3 linked regions of the Homo sapiens genome follow. The protein of the gene in region 3 purifies or fractionates together with the protein of the main gene of each other region. This does not show direct contact. Each region holds a gene or a part of one and is shown on either strand. Other genes may lie near its edges.

Region 1 (7,027 bases), on a different chromosome or scaffold from region 3:
CCAAGGCTGGCATTTTACTGGGTAGATACTGCTGAAGGAAATACAGGGTGCAGATAGTTCAGCTGGTCAATAATCCATGATTCAGGTTGGATAGGGAAAGAAGGGGGGTTAGGAGGGAATGCCTAGGTAGGTCAAAATGTAGGAATCACAGGACTGGAGAAGTCAGAAGTAGAAAAGCAGATTGCTAGGAGAGACAGGATGACAGATTTTGGTCAGAAAATGGGATATTGGAGTTTAAAGTATCAAATACAGAATAGTTCCAGATGTTCAGAGATCCAGCATGGGATTAGGTACTGAAATGGATTAGAACTAAAAGTCACTAGAATTTAGAAATTGAGAACCATGAGAGTGGATGCAATGACTTGTTGCTTGATTGAAAAATAAATTAATAATAATAAAGGACCATGAGACTAGCCTGTTATAGGGGTTATCTCCATGAACATTGAATTTTCCCAGGATCATAGCAGGAATTGGGTAGAGAAAAAGATTATGAGAAGGTGCCAGAGTCTTCAGTGAATGTCAGGAAATTACCAGGAAGTCAGCATATGACAGAGAAAAGGACAGTATGTTATCTGCATCAAAGGAAAATGTGCTTTTGTTGAAAAGTACAGAAAAAGCCAATACTACAATACTGTGCTAAGCCCCTACCTGTACTCCTCTACCCAACAGCTGCATTCCAGGCCCTGTGGTATAAAAGGTGTGAGAATGAGCATCTCCCACCAGAAATCAGACAGGTTTAGTTAAAGCAGTGAGGCAGAACAAGCATCCTATGAAGAGACTGAGGATGTAGGTGAGTGGTTCTAAAATCTCAGTAGAAGGAACATTGCAAGTAGAAAGAGCCAGCAGTAAGGATGCACGTAGCAGTCTAGAAGTAGAGGTGAGACCAGCTTGGAGATGAAATGAGGAGATGTCTTCTGTTCTGTGCTGGAGAAGTACTGGTAAGTGTGGTGTGGTTGGGATTCACAGGCCTCAGCCATCCTCACTTTGGTACAAGTTATTTTGGTACAGAACTACTAGAATGTCCCAAAGGCTGTAGTACAGGAACATTTCTGAAAGGACAAAAGCTGCCATGAATATTGAGAAATTGTATGGTGCCAGGTACAGCCTGGATCTGAGCAAGACTGCTGGATGGTGTGTGGATAGATAGTGAAGGCCCAGATTTGGGAACAGATTGGATCTCAGATATCCAGAGCAGCACTGTAGAATCTAGTTGCATATAATAATGTTTTAAAAAGGGTATCTTAGGCTGGGCACGGTAGCTCCCGCTTGTAGGCCCAGGCCTTTGGGAGGCCAAGGTGGGCAGATCACTTAAGCCCAGGAGTTCAAGACCAGCCTGGGCTGCATGGCGAAACCCCATCTCTATAAAAAATAAAAAAAATAAAAAAAAAATAGCGGGCATGGTGGCATGTACCAGTAGTCCTAGCTACTCAGGAGACTGAGGAGGGTGGATTGCTTGAGCCTGGGGAAGTCAAGGCTGCAGTAAGCCATGATCATGCCACTACACTCCAGCCTGAGTGACAGAGTGAGACCTTGTCGCCAAAAAAAAAAAAAAAAAAAACAGGGCTACCTTACTCTGGAAAAAACACATGTAGCATTGGCTGAATAAAGAAATGGAGCTTCATGATTAAGGACATTTGGAATCAGAGTGCAATAAACTTTTTGTCTTGTAGCTATAACCAGAATGCATGGCTTTGAAAATCACTGCAGCAGTATATATTTAGCATCTGGTCGCTGAATAGCAGTCTCTTGTGACTGAGGATGATTTTCCATGGTTCCTTTTTGTATTCTGAAATGACTAATGGAACCATCTGGGATCAGCAGATTTTAAGTCCCTGAAGGCTGGAAAAGACTTATACTTGGCTTTATAATTCCCCACAAAGTCAGGCCCAGCACCTTGCACTTAAGTGTTTATTGAATAAAAGAGTGACTTGTGTGGAAGTTATTCATTCTGCTTTAGCTGTTTTTGTCATTCATTCCCTTTTAACTCTTGTAGTTTGTTGTGACTTTAACTTTCTTACGCTTTTTTTGTGGAGCTGCTCGATAAATATTTGACATAGGTATTATGTCATTTTATGGCTCATCCAGTGTCACACAAGTAGTAAATGGTAGAGCCAAAACTCAAAATCAATGTCAGTGGATTCTGAAGGTAGGTGCTTTCTGGTACGCTAGAATTAGTACCAGTATAAGAGGCATAGGAGTGATCTTGTTTCCTGAGCGGAAAGCTTTATTTAGCCCTGTGGTCCTACCCACTCATGCAAGGATGCTTCTCTTTCTCGTCTCACATGAGAACCCTGATGACTGAGAGATCAACAGTGTTTCCTCAGGCCCAGCTGCCCTGCCCAGCGTTCCTGCATCCCACTCTCTACAGGCACAATGTTAGTGGAGCATTGTTCCTAGAGTATTCTTCATCTTAGTTGCTTTACCCTTGCTTCATATATTTGTATGTCTCACGTTTCAGATTGCTCTCAAATATCCCTGAAGCACTTTTTTAAAAAAAATTGTGGTGAAATATACATAAAATTCATCATTTTAAACTTTTTAAACTATGATTCTGAATTAATTTAGAATACTTCTGATGTATAAAATGCTATGTAAAATACGATTTTGCTGTTGGCTTCTGTATTAGTTTTTCATTGCTGTATAACAAATTCCTGCAAACTTAGCAGTTTAAAACAGCATACCTTTGTTATCTCACAGTTTCTATGGATCAGGAGTCCAGCCACAGCTTAATTGGGTCCTCTGCTCAGGGTCTCATTGGGCTACAGGCCAGTTGTTGACTGGGTCTGTAGTCTTATCAGAAGCTTAACTGGGGAAAGATCCACTTTCAGGTTTCCTCCGCTGGCAGAATTCATTTCCTCTAAGCTGTAGGACTGAGGTCCCCATTTTCTTGCTGGCTGTCAGCCAGGGACCACATTTAGCTTCTAGGAGCTGCCTGTAGTTGGTCCCTTGCCATGTAGTTCTGTCCATGAGCCTTCTCATAACATGGCAGCTTAGTTCTTTAAAGCCAGCAAGGGAGAGAGTCAGAGAGCAAAGTTTCTGACTCTCAGGGAAGGCCTGGACCCCCTTTAAAAATATACCTGATTAAGTTAGGGCCACCCAACTCAAAATCTACTGATTTGGGACCTTAATTACATCTGCAAAAACCCCTTCACTTTTGTCATATAATCTAATCATGGGAGTGACATCTTGGCGCATTCTGTTGGTTGAAAGCAAGTCTCATAGGTCCCACTCACGCTCAAAGGGAGTGATTACACCTCCCCTTGGTGAGAATGTGGAGTTTGAATACACGGGGTGGGGGGCATTTTAGAGTCTGTGTGCTATGGTTTCCTTTTTTATCCATTTCATAGGGTTTTTTATCAGCAATTGGACACCCTTTCCCCAAAATGATTTTTAATCATGGAAGGAAAAAGAGAACTTGGAATTACCTTGAATTTGAAGAAGAAGAAAATAAACAGTTAGCAGACTCAATGGCTTCTCTGGCATATCTAGTATTTGTACAGGGCATCCATATTGATCAGCTTCCAATGGTCTTAAGGTAAGAGTTAGTGTTTGGTTTATTCATGTATTCTAAAAGGAATTTCATAAAATTCTCATTTATCTAATGTCCAATATATGCATATTAACACACTAATACATTTTAAATAAATAGTAAAGGCTATTTTTAATAAGAATGATCCCAGCTATAATCTGTTAAAGATAGCAGTAGACAAGTAATGAAAGTGGGGAGTGTTGAAATAGGTGTAAGGGAATGGTGGGGACAAGAATCAGAAGATGATAAACAGGGCTTGGTTTTGAAGCTTTTGAGACCACCCTGGAACTAGCCAGGTACCCAGGGGTATCATCATCTTTTCACTGGATTACTGCTGTAATCCTGAGTGGATTTATATATCTACTTTTACTTCCTTTTAATTTAACACATTCTCAACATACCAGAAAGCGAAGCCTTAAAAGAAGTCCCTTACTGAAAACCCTCCAGTGGCTTTTTATTGCTTTAAGAATAAAGTCTTAATGCCTTTGCATAACTTCTGAGACAAACTTGTGCCTGGTCTGGTCCCTGCTTAATTGACCTGATTCATCTCCTACCACCTTTCCTCTTGTTTACTATGCTCCAGTGACACAGACCTTCTTTTGTTTCTAGTTTAAATGTTATGAATTTTCCTATTTGGCCTTTGTATATGCTTAAAATTCTCTTTATCCTTAAATGTCACTTTCTGAAGAAAGCCTTCACTCACCACCCAATTTAGGTTGAATCCTTCTATTATAATTACCTTGACCTTGTCTTCTTTTCCCACAATGTTTATTAAAATTATTTTTAAAATATATAATTTTATAATGTAATATCTTCTGGACTTTGAGTTCTATGATAATAAGGATTGTGTATTTGTCTTATAGGCATTGGGTATTTGTGTGAGTTTGTGCATTTATATATGAATATAGCTAGGAGTACATTCGTATGTAAATGTTGAAATACTGGCTATCATTTGCATGTTCACCATGTATGAAACATTATGCTAATAACTTTATATGCATTATCTCATCCTTATAATAAGCCTGTGAAATAGAGCATTCTCTCATTTTACAGATGAAAATAACAGGCTTAGACAAGTTAATATACCACTGAAGATCTAACTACTTTGTGGCATAGGTGGGATGCAGATAGCTCTGTCTGACCCCAGAGCCTATACTCTTAAGCATCACATTCTATCACCAAAATAACTTATACAGCATATGTATATTAACTTGCTAGGGCTCCTGTAAAAAAGTGCTACCAACTGGATGGTTGAAATAACAGAAATAGTTTGTCTCATAGTTCTGGATGCTCCTTCTGAGGGTTGTGAAGGAGAATCTTCTCCATGCCTCTCTCCTGGCTTCTGGTGATTTGCTCACAATCTTTGATGGTCTTTGGCTTGTAGATGCATTATCCTGTTCTCTGCCTTCATGTTCGTATGCTGTTCTCCCTGTGTGCTTGTGTCTGTCTCCAAACTTTCCTTTTACATAAGGACAACAGTCATATTGGATTAGGGCCCACCCTAATAATCTCATTTTAAATTGATTACCTCCATAACCCTATCTCCAAATAAGGTCAAATTCTGAGGTACTAGAGGTTAGGACTCCAACATATCTTTTTTGGGGGAGATACAATTCAACCCATAACAATATGTATGTGTGTACATATCTCTGTGTGTGTGTATAATATATATATTTGTTTTGTTTCTATTTTAGCCCATTGTACCTTTTGCAGTTTAATATGGGGCACATTGAAGTCTTTTTGCAAAGGTAAGATCGTTTAGATGGTATCTCAAAATGAAATAGTAGTGTTAAAATAGTCCTTGTTAAGATCAGCGGAGACTGCCTTTTCTTTGCTAAGCTCTAATTAATTAATTGGTTATTTTATAAAACAGCGAGGCAAATAATTCACGAGAGAGACAGAAATGAGTCAAGGAGGTTTTACACCAAAGTCTGTTTTATTTTAAACTTAAGACAGTATTAAGATTTTGTCTTAAGGGCTTTTACAGTCATCTGTTTCTAAGGTTTCTTCTCTTACTCCAAAAGTTGGTAAATTAAAACACCTCTACCCCACTGCATCCTCCTCCATCTTAAGGAAGGGCAGTCAATAAAAGAAGTTCTTCCGTATTTTTCCTTCATGGACACAGTCTGTGAATTGCATCAAAAGGAAGGAGGTGTCTTGACTTCCACCTTTTATAATTTAGATTATTGACAGTGATGTCATTCAATTACAACTTTTCTCATTTGAGGTGCTAAGCAGCAGGACTTTCTATTTAAAAAAAAAAAAAAAAAGCCAGGCACGGTGGCTCACGCCTATAATCCCAGCACTTTGGGAGACCAAGGCGAGAGGATTGCTTGACCCCAGGAGTTCGAAACCAGTCTCTCTCTCTACAAAAAATAGAAAAAATTAGCCAGGAGTGGTGGCGCCTGCCCGTTGTCCCAGCTACTTGGGAGGTTGAGGTGAAAGAATCACCTGTGCCTGGGAGGTCTGGGCTGCAGTGAGCAGAGATCATGCCACTGCAGTCCAGCCTGGGCAACAGAGTAAGACCCTGTCGCAAAAGAAAAAAAAAAAAAAAAGGAAATTACAGAGTAACAGGTATACATAATTTCTAGACAGAAATTAAAGAATTTCACAGAACTATATGCTTTGTTTTCTTTCACTATAACATGTAACATGTTTAAATTATCCCCTGAGATCAGTTAGGGCTTTGCAATTATCCTCTATGAACACTAGTGACAGTTTATCAGTCCCATCTCTTACCAGGTGAAGGAAGATTTGTAACATGGCAATGTCCAAAGCTTCAGCATACAAGGCAGGAATTTCCAAGGGTCTCCTGGCACAAGTAGTTACTAATTCTGTAAATTTGCTGTATTATGTATGTTTTAATGATTTTATATTCATTACATTTAGTTTCTGTTATTCATACAGTGATAATATGTATTGTTTTGAATCTAAGTCCTAAATTCTTGAGATTTCCAAACTGCAGAGTCATTGAGTCTTTTTTTGAATAAAAAGAATTGGAAAGATTTTACAGAATAATCAACTGGAATATATAGCATTGGTTATATCAGGTTTAGTTAGTTTCTTAGCACTTGCTGTTGAAGATCTATTGTTTTGAAGTTAGGAAATAATCCCTGAGTAGATTTATTTTGGTCAGATTTAGTGGCCTTAGCCAAACCGAAAGACAGATCAAAGATGGATTAAAACTTTTGATCAAGTTCTTCAACAGAATTTCTCCTTAATGATATGCATTTTAAAAGTGTTAAAATTTCAGTTTTTGCTGTATTTTTCATAAGATGAAGTATCATTCTAAAATAGTTTACAAATTCATGATAAATTTTAATATTATTTTTCAGAACAGAAGAGTCTGTTATCTCCAAAGGATTGGTAAGATGTTTGTTCCCATTATAACTTAAATACATAGTTATGTCAACAAATAACAGCTGTTGACTTCACTATATATGTATCTGCATATATTTTAATCTGTAGGAGCTGCTGGAGAATAGTTTATTGAGAATA
Region 2 (7,027 bases), on a different chromosome or scaffold from region 3:
GTTTTTCTATCTCATGGTTTTGAAATGATATATGATTGTTTTTGCACTTCTTGATTACTAGTGCTGTTACACCTCTTTTCACATGTTTATTGACCTCTTTCTATTGCTTGTTCAGATCTTTTGCTAGTTTTTCGATTAGTTTGTATTTTCATGGATTTGTAACAATTCTTTATATATTCTGGGTAGCAATTTTCTGTTATATGCATTACAACTATCTTTTCCTAGTCCATGATTTGACTTTTTACTTTTTGTAAATTTCAGTGTAATTAAATTCGTCAATTTTGTGTGGTGTGTGTTTTCCATTCTTAATTTGACAGATACTTACTGAGCATCTACTGTTTCAGGGACTATTTTGGGTACTTGGGATAGGTCATAAACAAAATACACAGTATTTCTAGAGTTCATATTCTAGAAGCTCAAGAAATATTCATAAAAATATTCACATGTATTTTTCCCTGAAAGTGTTTAAGTTTTGCTTTTTCAGTTTTAGATCATGAATTTACCTCGAATTAATCTTTGTATATGATGCGAAGTAAGAAATGTTTTTTTTTCCTATATGAGTAACCAGTTATCCAGGCACCGTTTATTGATTAACACATTGTTTCTTCACTGTTTTGTAGTGACACCTCTGTTAGATATCAAGTTTCTGCATTTGTGTGGGTTTGTTTCTGTGTCTGTTTTGTTTATTGGTACACTTCTCTGTCCTTGCATCTGTATTACACTCTTAATTACTGTGGTTCTATAATAAGCCTTGATATCATAGGTCTTCCTACTTTGTTTTTCTTCAAAATGGTTTGACCTGTTTTTAGTTCCTGCCTTTTTTTTTTTTTTGAGATAGACTCTCACTCTGTAGCCCAAGTTGGAGTGCAGTGGCATAATCTGGGCTCACTGCAACCTCTGCCTCCCAGGCTCAAGCGATTCTCATGCCTCAGCCTCTCCAGTAGCTGGGACTACAGGTGCACACCACCATGCCTGTCTAATTTTTTGTATTTTAGTAGAGACGAGGTTTCACCATGTTGCCCAGGGTGGTCTCGAACTCCTGAGCTCAGGCGATCTGCCCACCTTGGCCTCCCAAAGTGCTGGGATTACAAGTGTGAGCCTCTGCACCCAGCCGGTTCTTGCCTTTTGTATATGCATTTTAGAATCAGCTGAACTACAGTTATATCTTTGGTTATGCGTGGCTTCCTTTTCAGGGCTGCTGTTAGCTGTGTCAGAGTAAAATCCTGCTATATATTGGTGGTGTCTTCTGGTTTTAATAGTTCTTAAGATCCTTGAACGTCCTTGTGCAGCTTCTTTCTTTTTTATATTTTTCTTATTTATGACCTCCCCCTTCCCTCCCTCTTCTCTTTCTTTCCTTTCTTCTTTTCTTTTCTGTTACTGTTTTTGCTTCTATTGTTCTTTTCATGTTCCCATCCTTGTTTTTTGTTTTTTTCTTATGGTCATTCTAAAGAGTACTTTAAAAATATATTTTTATTAAAGTAGTATATGGTGCATGTGTCGAGGGAAGCAAATAATACAGAGGCATATAAAACAACAGGTGCAAGTCCGTCTGATATCAGGTGGCCGAGACTTCCCAGATATTTTATGGGGGCATGTATAAATCTGTGTCTGTTGAAAAAAAGGTCATATACAGACTGTTCTGTAGCTTGCTTTATTTTTTAATTTAATTTTTATTTTATTATTATTATTATTTTTTGAGATGGAGTCTTGCTCTGTCTCCCAGGCTGGAGTGCAGTGGTGCGATCTTAGCTCACTGCAACCTCCGCCTCCCGGGTTCAAGCGATTCTTCTGCCTCAGCCTCCCAAGTAGCTGGGACTGCAGGCGCCCGCCGCCACACCTGGCTAATTTTTGTATTTTTAGGAGAGATGGGGTTTCACCATATTGGCCAGGCTGGTCTCGAACTCCTGACTTTGTGATCCACTTGCCTCGGCCTCCCAAAGTACTGGGATCACAAGCATAGGACACTGCGCCCGGCCAGCTTGCTTTATTTTATTTAGTATTTTAAAAGACATTCTTCTATCGCTAATTTATTCTCATGGCTGCATTGTATGTATATACAGTAATTTAACCAATCCCCCATTGATGGACTTGTAGATGTCTACTTCCTGATCTTGCAGCTTTCAGACACTACTGATCCTCACTGGCAAAGTGGAAGTTGGGTAATTTATTTTCTCTCTCCTTACGCCTTCCCTTTTACTCTTTTAAATTTAGTGGGGTTCTACCAAGAACTTTCCTGTATACTCTTCAGAGCACTGGCATGTAGCTTTCTCAAGAGGGAAGAGTTGGCAGTAAACCTTGGTGTAGTTCTTTTGTCTGGTTCTATCTGTATTTTACTATTAAACTCAAAAGTTCTTTTTTTTTTTTTTTGAGATGGAGTCTTGCTCTGTTGCCCAGGCTGGAGTGCAGTGGTACAGTCTTGGCTCACTGCAGCCTCCACCTCCCCGGTTCAAGTGATTCTCCTGCCTCAGCCTCCCAAGTAGCTGGGATTACAGGTGCCCGCCACCACACCCGGCTAATTTTTGTATTTTTAGTAGAGACGGGGTTTCACCATATTGGCCAGGCTGGTCTTGAACTCCTGACTTAGGTGATCTACACGCCTTGGCCTCCCAAAGTGCTGGGATTACAGGCATGAGCCACCATGCCTGGCCTCTATTAACATACGGTATCCTGGAGGAGAGTGTTTGTCATATAGTGTTATAAGTAGCAGTCTGATTGTAGAGTTGAAAAATGAATGAGTTGGAGAAAATGGAGATGGAGAATTTAAGCAGCTCTTTGCCACACACTTGACTATGAGAGAGCAGGGAATGAAGAGATGCAGATTTTGGGATTTTTCATTTTATTGGTGTTATACTTTTTGAAAGAAGTTAAAGTTGGATCTCTGTGTTACATAATTTTCCTTCTCTTAATCCTCCTAGCCTCCACCAGGCGGTGTGAAGATGCCTAATGTACCCAATACACAACCAGCAATAATGAAACCAACAGAGGAACATCCAGCTTATACACAGATTGCAAAGGTTAGTTCATGTTAGTTGTATAAATTCATATTGGCCATTATAATATCAATAACATTTGCTTTCAGAGCAAAATAAATCTTTATATGGTTACATTTCTGTTGCTTAATTTTTAACTCACTTTCAAGTCTGGATTTGCTGTCTTGTCACCCTTCAAATACTCATTCCTCTTTTTGTCAGCTTATACCATTTGCTTTATTCCATTATTAGGAATTATTGAATTTATGTATCATCTCAGTGGATAAATTTTTATTGCCTTTGGTCCCACTTTTTAATGCACACTACCATTAAGGTAAAAATGATGGAATAATAGATATTATTGGGAGAGCGTTGCAATGGTAAAATAACAGTGTTAGGAGGTAGAAGATGGCAAAAATCTGAGAAGAAAGGAGATTAATAAGATGCCTGATAGCATGTAAGGGCAAATTGAGTTATAAAGAATTTCTTAATCACATCTTTTGACCTCATTCTCCTATAACATTTAAGATATTAGAAAATATTCTTGCATTGGTGGCCTTATATATCATTTAATCTGATTAATAGGAGCCAATTCAGTTGCCCTTTTTTCTATTGTTCATTTTCCTCAACTGTTCCCATTGCCTCTGTTCTTCACTCATTTAGGCATAGAGGTCATCTTAATTTCATTTTCCAGATTACCTAAAGATTGTGACTACTTTTACTAAGAGAAGTTTTCCTCTCCTAATGGACCCAACATTCCCACTGAGAGTTTCTGGAACCCAAAGACCAAATGGACCAAATATCCTCATAATATTTTCTGTAACTATGATCTTCAGTAAATTCCTGTACTTTGGAAGTGTGTTTGAATTAGGTTTCTCTCATAGTAGAGAAGTAGGAGTTAGCATATAAATGTTAAAGTATTTTATACTTCTGACAGTCTATTCACATATTGATATTTTTTATTTAGGAACATGCATTGGCCCAAGCTGAACTTCTTAAGCGCCAGGAAGAACTAGAAAGAAAAGCCGCAGAATTAGATCGTCGGGAACGAGAAATGCAAAACCTCAGTCAACATGGTAGTATCCAAAGAAATTTGAAATAAAAATAACTTTTAAATACTTTACATTATGTCTATACTAGCTCCTAGGTCATTTGGCCTGTGGATAAAACCCTACCCTGTTTTCCTGTTCTAACAAGGAGATCAGACACAGCAGATTGCCTGTTTGATACTCTGTAGCCTTCTAATCTTGGCTGATTTGCATAGTCTTTTGTTGATAGCTTAGAACAGTGTTAGCCTCATCACACAGAAAATGAATGTGAATATGATAATTTTTGCTTACTCTGAGGCCAGGAGCCTTTGATTCTGCAGTTAGGCCCTCCTTGGTTCTGTGGACTCTTTATGAGTACATTTGCATGTACCCTACATTTGACTTTTACCTGATTTATTCAGGTTAATTTCAGATTATCTGCCCCAGTCCTCGCAAGTATTTTGTCAAATCATGTTAGAAAAATTGGAAGCCTAAGGTATTCATATGATGCCAAAGAAATAAGTGGTGAATTGTTGCAGTGAATTCTATTAAGTTTGTGCCTGCCAAAGCACTTCAAAGGAGTCTCTTAGGGAAAGCTAGCAGTCTCTGAGTAAGAAGAGATAAAAGAGCTAGATAAGTCATTGTTAGGATGTCTGGGATAGTGATGCAATGCAAAGCTAGAACAATAACAATATACAGAACTATTTCTTTTTAACTTAGAATGTGTAAGTCTAGGGCCTCATGAGAACACATTTATCCTGGGTCATTTTCTTGCTTGCAGCATCAGAGGTAGCATCTATAGAAGGAGAAACTAAAAGTTGAACTGGGACCAATGTTTCTGAAGTACCTGTAACTAAAATCCATCCTATTTCTTTAGCACTGGCAAATACAAACTATTTCTATGAGAGTTATGTTAGTAAAGACAGTAACAAAGAGTAGGAAATTAACAATTAGACTGCAGTATGTTAGCACATTTTAGTACTTTTCCCCTCTTAACTCATACTTAAATCATCAATACAATCCTGTGAGGGGTGATAGAGTTTTTATTCTCATTTTACAGATATGGAAACTAAGGCTCGGAGGAGAGAGTAAGTTGCCCAAGGCGACCTTGCCAGTAAGTGGCTAGCCACTTCTGGTTCCAGAGCCTCTCTTCTTTACGAGTATTCACTGCCGCTTCTCAAATAGTATGAGATTGGTATGAGAAATGAACTATATGAAATTTGAATAGTATGATAAATGGAACACAGGAGACTCATTGGGGAGAATCAGAAATAGGTTATTGTTCTTTCTATAAAAATTACCCTGGTCTGGGAAAAGTAGGTAAAATTGAATTTTTAAAAACTGTGGGATATAACATCTAAAATCGGGAAATGGCCTTAGGTGCTGTTTTTACCCGCTATTTTCATGTTTTGACTTCTTTATTTTAATTTTTTATTTCCCCCACCATTTCTCAAGTCTTATTTTTAATCTGGTTTCTTTATGTAGACACATTTTTTTCCCTTTACAGTTTGAATTTGTTTTTCTCTGCATTTTTAAAGGTTCTATAATTCTTCAGCTTCCTTATCATGACTGTTTCATGTTTTCTTTGTTGTAGGGTTTTCGTACATGTATCTTTTGGATATTATTTTTTCCCAGATTTTGAGTATTCTAAATTTGATTCTTTGGTATTGGTTTAATCTTGGACTTAACAGAAAACTTGAAAAAATTAGAAGCTAGTCTTTCTCCACTTGAGATAGGAATTATAACAGAATTATATTTGAAGATTTAAGATGCTGAGGAGAAAATTGAAGTTTAAAAACTGGATGGCCCTTTCATGCCAGCCAGACTCTTTGGACTGTGAAATAAATCTGTTTTAGGGTAGAAGCACTGGATATGTGCTTTCTTTTTGTTTCTTGTTTTTTCTGTACATAAATGGTTCCTGCTAAACATGGTATGATATGACACTGGAAAATTATTTTACTATCTAATGTGCTCTAAGGTGATGATATTCTGAGAAAATTTTTTAAAAATCTAAAGCTTGTCTTTCAGAGTTCTAGGAATACAAAGATATAGTTCTACAGTTTTTCTGAACTTTTGTTAACATAATAGAGTTTTTCTTTATTATGAAACAAAAAATAATATCACATTTGTTATAATATAAATAACCTTTTCTTTTTCTAAAAAAAATTTACAGGTAGAAAAAATAATTGGCCACCTCTTCCTAGCAATTTTCCTGTCGGACCTTGTTTCTATCAGGATTTTTCTGTAGACATTCCTGTAGAATTCCAAAAGACAGTAAAGCTTATGTACTACTTGTGGATGTGTGAGTATACAACAATTTACATCTTTGCTTAGAATTTGTATTTTTGTTGTCAAAATCCGCATTTTTATTTCAAGGATAGTATAGCAAACCAGTCTTCTTTTTCTATAGATAAAGCTTAATAATCATGATTTCAGAGTGAAACATATCCTATTTAGGTACTTCAGAATTGTACTATATGTGACAATGTAAGTCCTTGGCTGAGAAAAACTTGTATGTTGAGAACTGGCATTCTTTTGAGGAAAAGACAACTTCTCTGTCATGTGGGTAAAATTTTATAAGATTCTTTTTCCTTGAAAGATGTTATCTAGACATGATTTGCTTGGAAAAAATAGTGCATACTAATTTTATGCAGAGGAAGGCCATTTAAAAGAATTCTGTTAAATGTAGGCGTTTTAGCTATTTTTAAAAGGGCATAAAATTATTACATAAACTAAGTGTTCTTTTTATAGCTTTGAGTACAGTTTACTTTTTGTTTTCAATTGCGATACTTTTATTATTGAAAGTGCTTAATTAATACAGGACATTTTGTTGAACGGAACATTAGAATATACGTTTGGGGCTCTGATGCTTACATCACTTTGAGTATAATAACTCATGGAATACTGAAACAAAATGTCAAGCCGTTAACAGTTTTACTCTGTGTGCACAGACCTCCCACTTACTCTCTGTTTCATTTTTATTCCAAACAGTAGTCTCAGCCTCATTTTGATACCCTGTCAGAAGGGGAG
Region 3 (7,027 bases):
CCTGCATGCGTTAGGTATTTGTCCTAATGCTCTCCCTCCCTGTGCCCCCGATCCTCCAACAGGGCCCAGTGTGTGATGTCCCCCTCCCTGTGTCCATGTGTTCTCATTGTTCAACTCCCACTTATGAGTGAGAACATGTGGTGTTTGATTTTCTGTCCCTGTGTTAGTTTGCTGAAAATGATGGCTTCTAGCTTCATCCATGTCTCTGCAAAGGACATGAACACATTCTTTTTTATGGCTGCATAGTATTCCATGGTGTATATGTGCCACATTTTCTTTATCCAGTCTATCATTGATGGGCATTTGGGTTGGTTCAAAGTCTTTGCTATTTGCACAGGTAATTTTAAAGTTAGGGCTGGACCCTCCTAGGAGGCCTTCGTGTAGAAAGTATGCAAATAGCGGAAACTCCCTTGAGACAGAGAATTTCACAGTGGATGGGGATGGGGAATCAACAGGCCTATTTGTGAGCAACCTTGAAACCATCTAGCCCAGTTGCTGCCATGAAGCCACCATGGCTGATTATTTATTTGCCTCAAAACATGTTTATATCAGGACAAAAGCAACCAAAATGCCAATCATGATCATGAAGATGAATCAAACAATTGAATGCCAGGAACATTGAATCTTTTTTCTTTTTTTTTTTATTATTATACTTTAAGTTTTAGGGTACATGTGCACATTGTGCAGGTTAGTTACATATGTATACATGTGCCATGCTGGTGCGCTGCACCCACTAACTCGTCATCTAGCATTAGGTATATCTCCCAATGCTATCCCTCCCGCCTCCCCCCACCCCACAACAGTCCCCAGAGTGTGATGTTCCCCTTCCTGTGTCCATGTGTTCTCATTGTTCAATTCCCACCTATGAGTGAGAATATGCGGTGTTTGGTTTTTTGTTCTTGCGATAGTTTACTGAGAATGATGATTTCCAATTTCATCCATGTCCCTACAAAGGACATGAACTCATCATTTTTTATGGCTGCATAGTATTCCATGGTGTATATGTGCCACATTTTCTTAATCCAGTCTATCATTGTTGGACATTTGGGTTGGTTCCAAGTCTTTGCTATTGTGAATAATGCCGCAATAAACATACGTGTGCATGTGTTTTTATAGCAGCATGATTTATAGTCCTTTGGATATATACCCAGTAATGGGATGGCTGGGTCAAATGGTATTTCCAGTTCTAGATCCCTGAGGAATTGCCACACTGACTTCCACAATGGTTGAACTAGTTTACAGTCCCACCAACAGTGTAAAAGTGTTCCTATTTCTCCACATCCTCTCCAGCACCTGTTGTTTCCTGAGTTTTTAATGATTGCCATTCTAACTGGTGTGAGATGGTATCTCATTGTGGTTTTGATTTGCATTTCTCTGATGGCCAGTGATGATGAGCATTTTTTCATGTGTTTTTTGGCCGCATAAATGTCTTCTTTTGAGAAGTGTCTGTTCATGTCCTTCGCCCACTTTTTGATGGGGTTGTTTGTTTTTTTCTTGTAAATTTGTTTGAGTTCATCGTAGATTCTGGATATTAGCCCTTTGTCAGATGAGTAGGTTGCGAAAATTTTCTCCCATTTTGTAGGTTGCCTGTTCACTCTGATGGTAGTTTCTTTTGCTGTGCAGAAGCTCTTCAGTTTAATTAGATCCCATTTGTCAATTTTGGCTTTGGTTGCCATTGCTTTTGGTGTTTTAGACATGAAGTCCTTGCCCATGCCTATGTCCTGAATGGCAATGCCTAGGTTTTCTTCTAGGGTTTTTATGGTTTTAGGTCTAACGTTTAAGTCTTTAATCCATCTTGAATTGATTTTTGTATAAGGTGTAAGGAAGGGATCCAGTTTCAGCTTTCTCCATATGGCTAGCCAGTTTTCCCAGCACCATTTATTAAATAGGGAATCCTTTCCCCATTGCTTGTTTTTCTCAGGTTTGTCAAAGATCAGATAGTTGTAGATATGCGGCGTTATTTCTGAGGGCTCTGTTTTGTTCCATTGATCGATATCTCTGTTTTGGTACCAGTACCATGCTGTTTTGGTTACTGTAGCCTTGTAGTATAGTTTGAAGTCAGGTAGTGTGATGCCTCCAGCTTTGTTCTTTTGGCTTAGGATTGACTTGGCGATACGGGCTCTTTTTTGATTCCATATGAACTTTAAAGTAGTTTTTTCCAATTCTGTGAAGAAAGGCATTGGTAGCTTGATGGGGATGGCATTGAATCTGTAAATTACCTTGGGCAGTATGGCCATTTTCATGATATTGATTCTTCTACCCATGAGCATGGAATGTTCTTCCATTTGTTTGTATCCTCTTTTATTTCGTTGACCAGTGGTTTGTAGTTCTCCTTGAAGAGGTCCTTCACATCCCTTGTAAGTGGGATTCCTAGGTATTTTATTCTCTTTGAAGCAATTGTGAATGGGAGTTCACTCATGATTTGGCTCTCTGTTTGTCTGTTGTTGGTGTATAAGAATGCTTGTGATTTTTGTACATTGATTTTGTATCCTGAGACTTTGCTGAAGTTGCTTATCAGCTTAAGGAGATTTTGGGCTGAGACAATGGGGTTTTCTAGATATACAATCATGTCATCTGCAAACAGGGACAATTTGACTTCCTCTTTTCCTAATTGAATACCCTTTATTTCCTTCTCCTGCCTAATTGCCCTGGCCAGAACTTCCAACACTGGGTTGAATAGGAGTGGTGAGAGAGGGCATCCCTGTCTTGTGCCAGTTTTCAAAGGGAATGCTTCCAGTTTTTGCCCATTCAGTATGATATTGGCTGTGGGTTTGTCATTGATAGCTCTTATTATTTTGAAATAAGTCCCATCAATACCTAATTTATTGAGAGTTTTTAGCATGAAGGGTTGTTGAATTTTGTCAAAGGCTTTTTCTGCATCTATTGAGATAATCATGTGGTTTTTGTCTTTGGCTCTGTTTATATGCTGGATTACATTTATTGATTTGCGTATATTGAACCAGCCTTGCATCCCAGGGATGAAGCCCACTTGATCATGGTGGATAAGCTTTTTGATGTGCTGCTGGATTCGTTTTGCCAGTATTTTATTGAGGATTTTTGCATCAATGTTCATGAAGGATATTGGTCTAAAATTCTCTTTTTTTGTTGTGTCTCTGCCTGGCTTTGGTATCAGAATGATGCTGGCCTCATAAAATGAGTTAGGGAGGATTCCCTCTTTTTCTATTGATTGGAATAGTTTCAGAAGGAATGGTACCAGTTCCTCCTTGTACCTCTGGTAGAATTCAGCTGTGAATCCGTCTGGTCCTGGACTCTTTTTAGTTGGTAAGCTATTGATTATTGCCACAATTTCAGATCCTGTTATTGGTCTATTCAGAGATTCAATTCCTTCCTGGTTTAGTCTTGGGAGAGTGTATGTGTCGAGGAATGTATCCATTTCTTCTAGATTTTCTAGTTTATTTGCGTAGAGGTGTTTGTAGTATTCTCTGATGGTAGTTTGTATTTCTGTGGGATCGGTGGTGATATCCCCCTTATCATTTTTTATTGCGTCTATTTGATTCTTCTCTCTTTTTTTCTTTATTAGTCTTGCTAGTGGTCTATCAATTTTGTTGATCCTTTCAAAAAACCAGCTCCTGGATTCATTGATTTTTTGAAGGGTTTTTTGTGTCTCTATTTTCTTCAGTTCTGCTCTGATTTTGGTTATTTCTTGCCTTCTGCTAGCTTTTGAATGTGTTTGCTCTTGCTTTTCTAGTTCTTTTAATTGTGATGTTAGGGTGTCAATTTTGGATCTTTCCTGCTTTCTCTTGTGGGCATTTAGTGCTATAAATTTCCCTCTACACACTGCTTTGAATGCATCCCAGAGATTCTGGTATGTTGTGTCTTTGTTCTCGTTGGTTTCAAAGAACATCTTTATTTCTGCCTTCATTTCGTTATGTACCCAGTAGTCATTCAGGAGCAGGTTGTTCAGTTTCCATGTAGTTGAGCAGTTTTGAGTGAGATTCTTAATCCTGAGTTCTAGTTTGATTGCACTGTGGTCTGAGAGATAGTTTATTATAATTTCTGTTCTTTTACATTTGCTGAGGACAGCTTTTCTTCCAAGTATGTGGTCAATTTTGGAATAGGTGTTGTGTGGTGCTGAAAAAAATGTATATTCTGTTGATTTGGGGTGGAGAGTTCCGTAGATGTCTATTAGGTCCGCTTGGTGCAGAGCTGAGTTCAATTCCTGGGTATCCTTGTTGACTTTCTGTCTCGTTGATCTGTCTAATGTTGACAGTGGGGTGTTAAAGTCTCCCATTATTAATGTGTGGGAGTCTAAGTCTCTTTGTAGGTCACTCAGGACTTGCTTTATGAATCTGGGTGCTCCTGTAGTGGGTGCATATATATTTAGGATAGTTAGCTCTTCTTGTTGAATTGATCCCTTTACCATTATGTAATGGCCTTCTTTGTCTCTTTTGATCTTTGTTGGTTTAAAGTCTGTTTTATCAGAGACTAGGATTGCAACCCCTGCCTTTTTTTGTTTTCCATTTGCTTGGTAGATCTTCCTCCATCCTTTTATTTTGAGCCTATGTGTGTCTCTGCACGTGAGATGGGTTTCCTGAATACAGCACACTGATGGGTCTTGACTCTTTATCCAATTTGCCAGTCTGTGTCTTTTAACTGGAGCATTTAGTCCATTTACATTTAAAGTTAATATTGTTATGTGTGAATTTGATCCTGTCATTATGATGTTAGCTGGTGATTTTGCTCGTTAGTTGATGCAGTTTCTTCCTAGTCTCGATGGTCTTTATACTTTGGCATGATTTTGCAGCGGGTGGTACCGGTTGTTCCTTTCCCTGTTTAGCGCTTCCTTCAGGAGCTCTTTTAGGACAGGCCTGGTGGTGACAAAATCTCTCAGCATTTGCTTGTCTGTAAAGTATTTTATTTCTCCTTCACTTATGAAGCTTAGTTTGGCTGGATATGAAATTCTGGGTTGAAAATTCTTTTCTTTAAGAATGTTGAATATTGGCCCCCACTCTCTTCTGGCTTGTAGGGTTTCTGCCGAGAGATCCACTGTTAGTCTGATGGGCTTCCCTTTGAGGGTAACCCGACCTTTCTCTCTGGCTGCCCTTAACATTTTTTCCTTCATTTCAACTTTGGTGAATCTGACAATTATGTGTCTTGGAGTTGCTCTTCTCGAGGGGTATCTTTGTGGCGTTCTCTGTATTTCCTGAATCTGAACGTTGGCCTGCCTTGCTAGATTGGGGAAGTTCTCCTGGATAATATCCTGCAGAGTGTTTTCCAACTTGGTTCCATTCTCCCCATCACTTTCAGGTACACAAATCAGATGTAGATTTGGTCTTTTCACATAGTCCCATATTTCTTGGAGGCTTTGCTCATTTCTTTTTATTCTTTTTTCTCTAAACTTCCCTTCTTGCTTCATTTCATTAATTTCATCTTCCATTGCTGATACCCTTTCTTCCAGTTGATTGCTTTGGCTCCTGAGGCTTCTGCATTCTTCACGTAGTTCTCGAGCCTTGGTTTTCAGCTCCATCAGCTCCTTTAAGCACTTCTCTGTATTGGTTATTCTAGTTATACATTCTTCTAAATTTTTTTCAAAGTTTTCAACTTCTTTGCCTTTGGTTTGAATGTCCTCCCGTAGCTCAGAGTAATTTGATCGTCTGAAGCCTTCTTCTCTCAGCTCGTCAAAGTCATTCTCCATCCAGCTTTGTTCCATTGCTGGTGAGGAGCTGCGTTCCTTTGGAAGAGGAGAGGCGCTCTGCTTTTTAGAGTTTCCAGTTTTTCTGTTCTGTTTTTTCCCCATCTTTGTGGTTTTATCTACTTTTGGTCTTTGATGACGGTGATGTACAGATGGGTTTTTGGTGTGGATGTCCTTTCTGTTTGTTAGTTTTCCTTCTAACAGACAGGACCCTCAGCTGCAGGTCTGTTGGAATACCCTGCCGTGTGAGGTGTCAGTGTGCTCCTGCTGGGGGGTGCCTCCCAGTTAGGCTGCTCGGGGGTCAGGGGTCAGGGACCCACTTGAGGAGGCAGTCTGCCCGTTCTCAGATCTCCAGCTGCGTGCTGGGAGAACCACTGCTCTCTTCAAAGCTGACAGGGACATTTAAGTCTGCAGAGGTTACTGCTGTCTTTTTGTTTGTCTGTGCCCTGCCCCCAGAGGTGGAGCTTACAGAGGCAGGCAGGCCTCCTTGAGCTGTGGTGGGCTCCACCCAGTTCGAGCTTCCCTGCTGCTTTGTTTACCTAAGCAAGCCTGGGCAATGGCGGGCGCCCCTCCCCCAGCCTCGCTGCCGCCTTGCAGTTTGATCTCAGACCGCTGTGCTAGCAATCAGCGAGACTCCGTGGGCGTAGGACCCTCCCAGCCAGGTGCGGGTTATAATCTCGTGGTCCGCCGTTTTTTAAGCCCGTCGGAAAAGCGCAGTATTTGGGTGGGAGTGACCCGATTTTCCAGATGCCATCCGTCACCCCTTTCTTTGACTCGGAAAGGGAACTCCCTGACCCCTTGTGCTTCCCAAGTGAGGCAATGCCTCGCCCCGCTTCGGCTCGCGCAGGGTGCGCGCACCCACTGACCTGCGCCCACTGTCTGGCACTCCCTAGTGAGATGAACCCAGTACCTCAGATGGAAATGCAGAAATCACCCATCTTCTGCATCGCTCACGCTGGGAGCTGTAGACCAGAGCTGTTCCTATTTGGCCATCTTGGCTCCTCCCACTGAATCTTAAAACAGGCCTTTCACCAGGGAGATTACATTCAAGCAGGGGAGGCAGAACACTCGCGAATGGGTGCCCACTAATATTCTAAAGTGTGTAGCAAGGTGTTGTGAGCCCAAATGTGTCCTCATCCTCCTGTCCCCCAGTTCAAGTTGGGTTTCCAGTACCTCAGAATGTAACCACATTTGGAGATAAGGTCTTTAAAGGTGACCAAGTTAAAACAAGGCCATTAGAGCGGGCTATTCCAATATGACAGTATAGGAAGGCGAAGAGACACAGGCATGCGCACGTGCAGAGAAAAGGCCATCTGAGGACACAGCAAGGCGGCCCTCGCAGGCGGTGGAGAGGGGCCCAGGAGACACCAATGC

The links. Proteins that work in one complex are often made in the same cells at the same time.
Region 1: the proteins of ENPP6 (region 3) and GLMN purify together in Homo sapiens (affinity purification with mass spectrometry; 3 studies listed by BioGRID and IntAct, with this or other methods). This does not show direct contact.
Region 2: the proteins of ENPP6 (region 3) and SCAMP1 purify together in Homo sapiens (affinity purification with mass spectrometry; 4 studies listed by BioGRID and IntAct, with this or other methods). This does not show direct contact.

What each region holds. Positions count from the first base shown.
Region 1 is NC_000001.11:92,267,973-92,274,999, reverse strand, and holds part of GLMN (glomulin), read left to right. Parts: intron 1-3,347; coding exon 3,348-3,535; intron 3,536-5,223; coding exon 5,224-5,277; intron 5,278-6,864; coding exon 6,865-6,895; intron 6,896-6,997; coding exon 6,998-7,027.
Region 2 is NC_000005.10:78,412,605-78,419,631, forward strand, and holds part of SCAMP1 (secretory carrier-associated membrane protein 1), read left to right. Parts: intron 1-2,915; coding exon 2,916-3,014; intron 3,015-3,936; coding exon 3,937-4,045; intron 4,046-6,170; coding exon 6,171-6,299; intron 6,300-7,027. UniProt on the Homo sapiens protein: Functions in post-Golgi recycling pathways. Acts as a recycling carrier to the cell surface.
Region 3 is NC_000004.12:184,207,860-184,214,886, reverse strand, and holds part of ENPP6 (glycerophosphocholine cholinephosphodiesterase ENPP6 precursor), read left to right. Parts: intron 1-7,027. UniProt on the Homo sapiens protein: Choline-specific glycerophosphodiesterase that hydrolyzes glycerophosphocholine (GPC) and lysophosphatidylcholine (LPC) and contributes to supplying choline to the cells.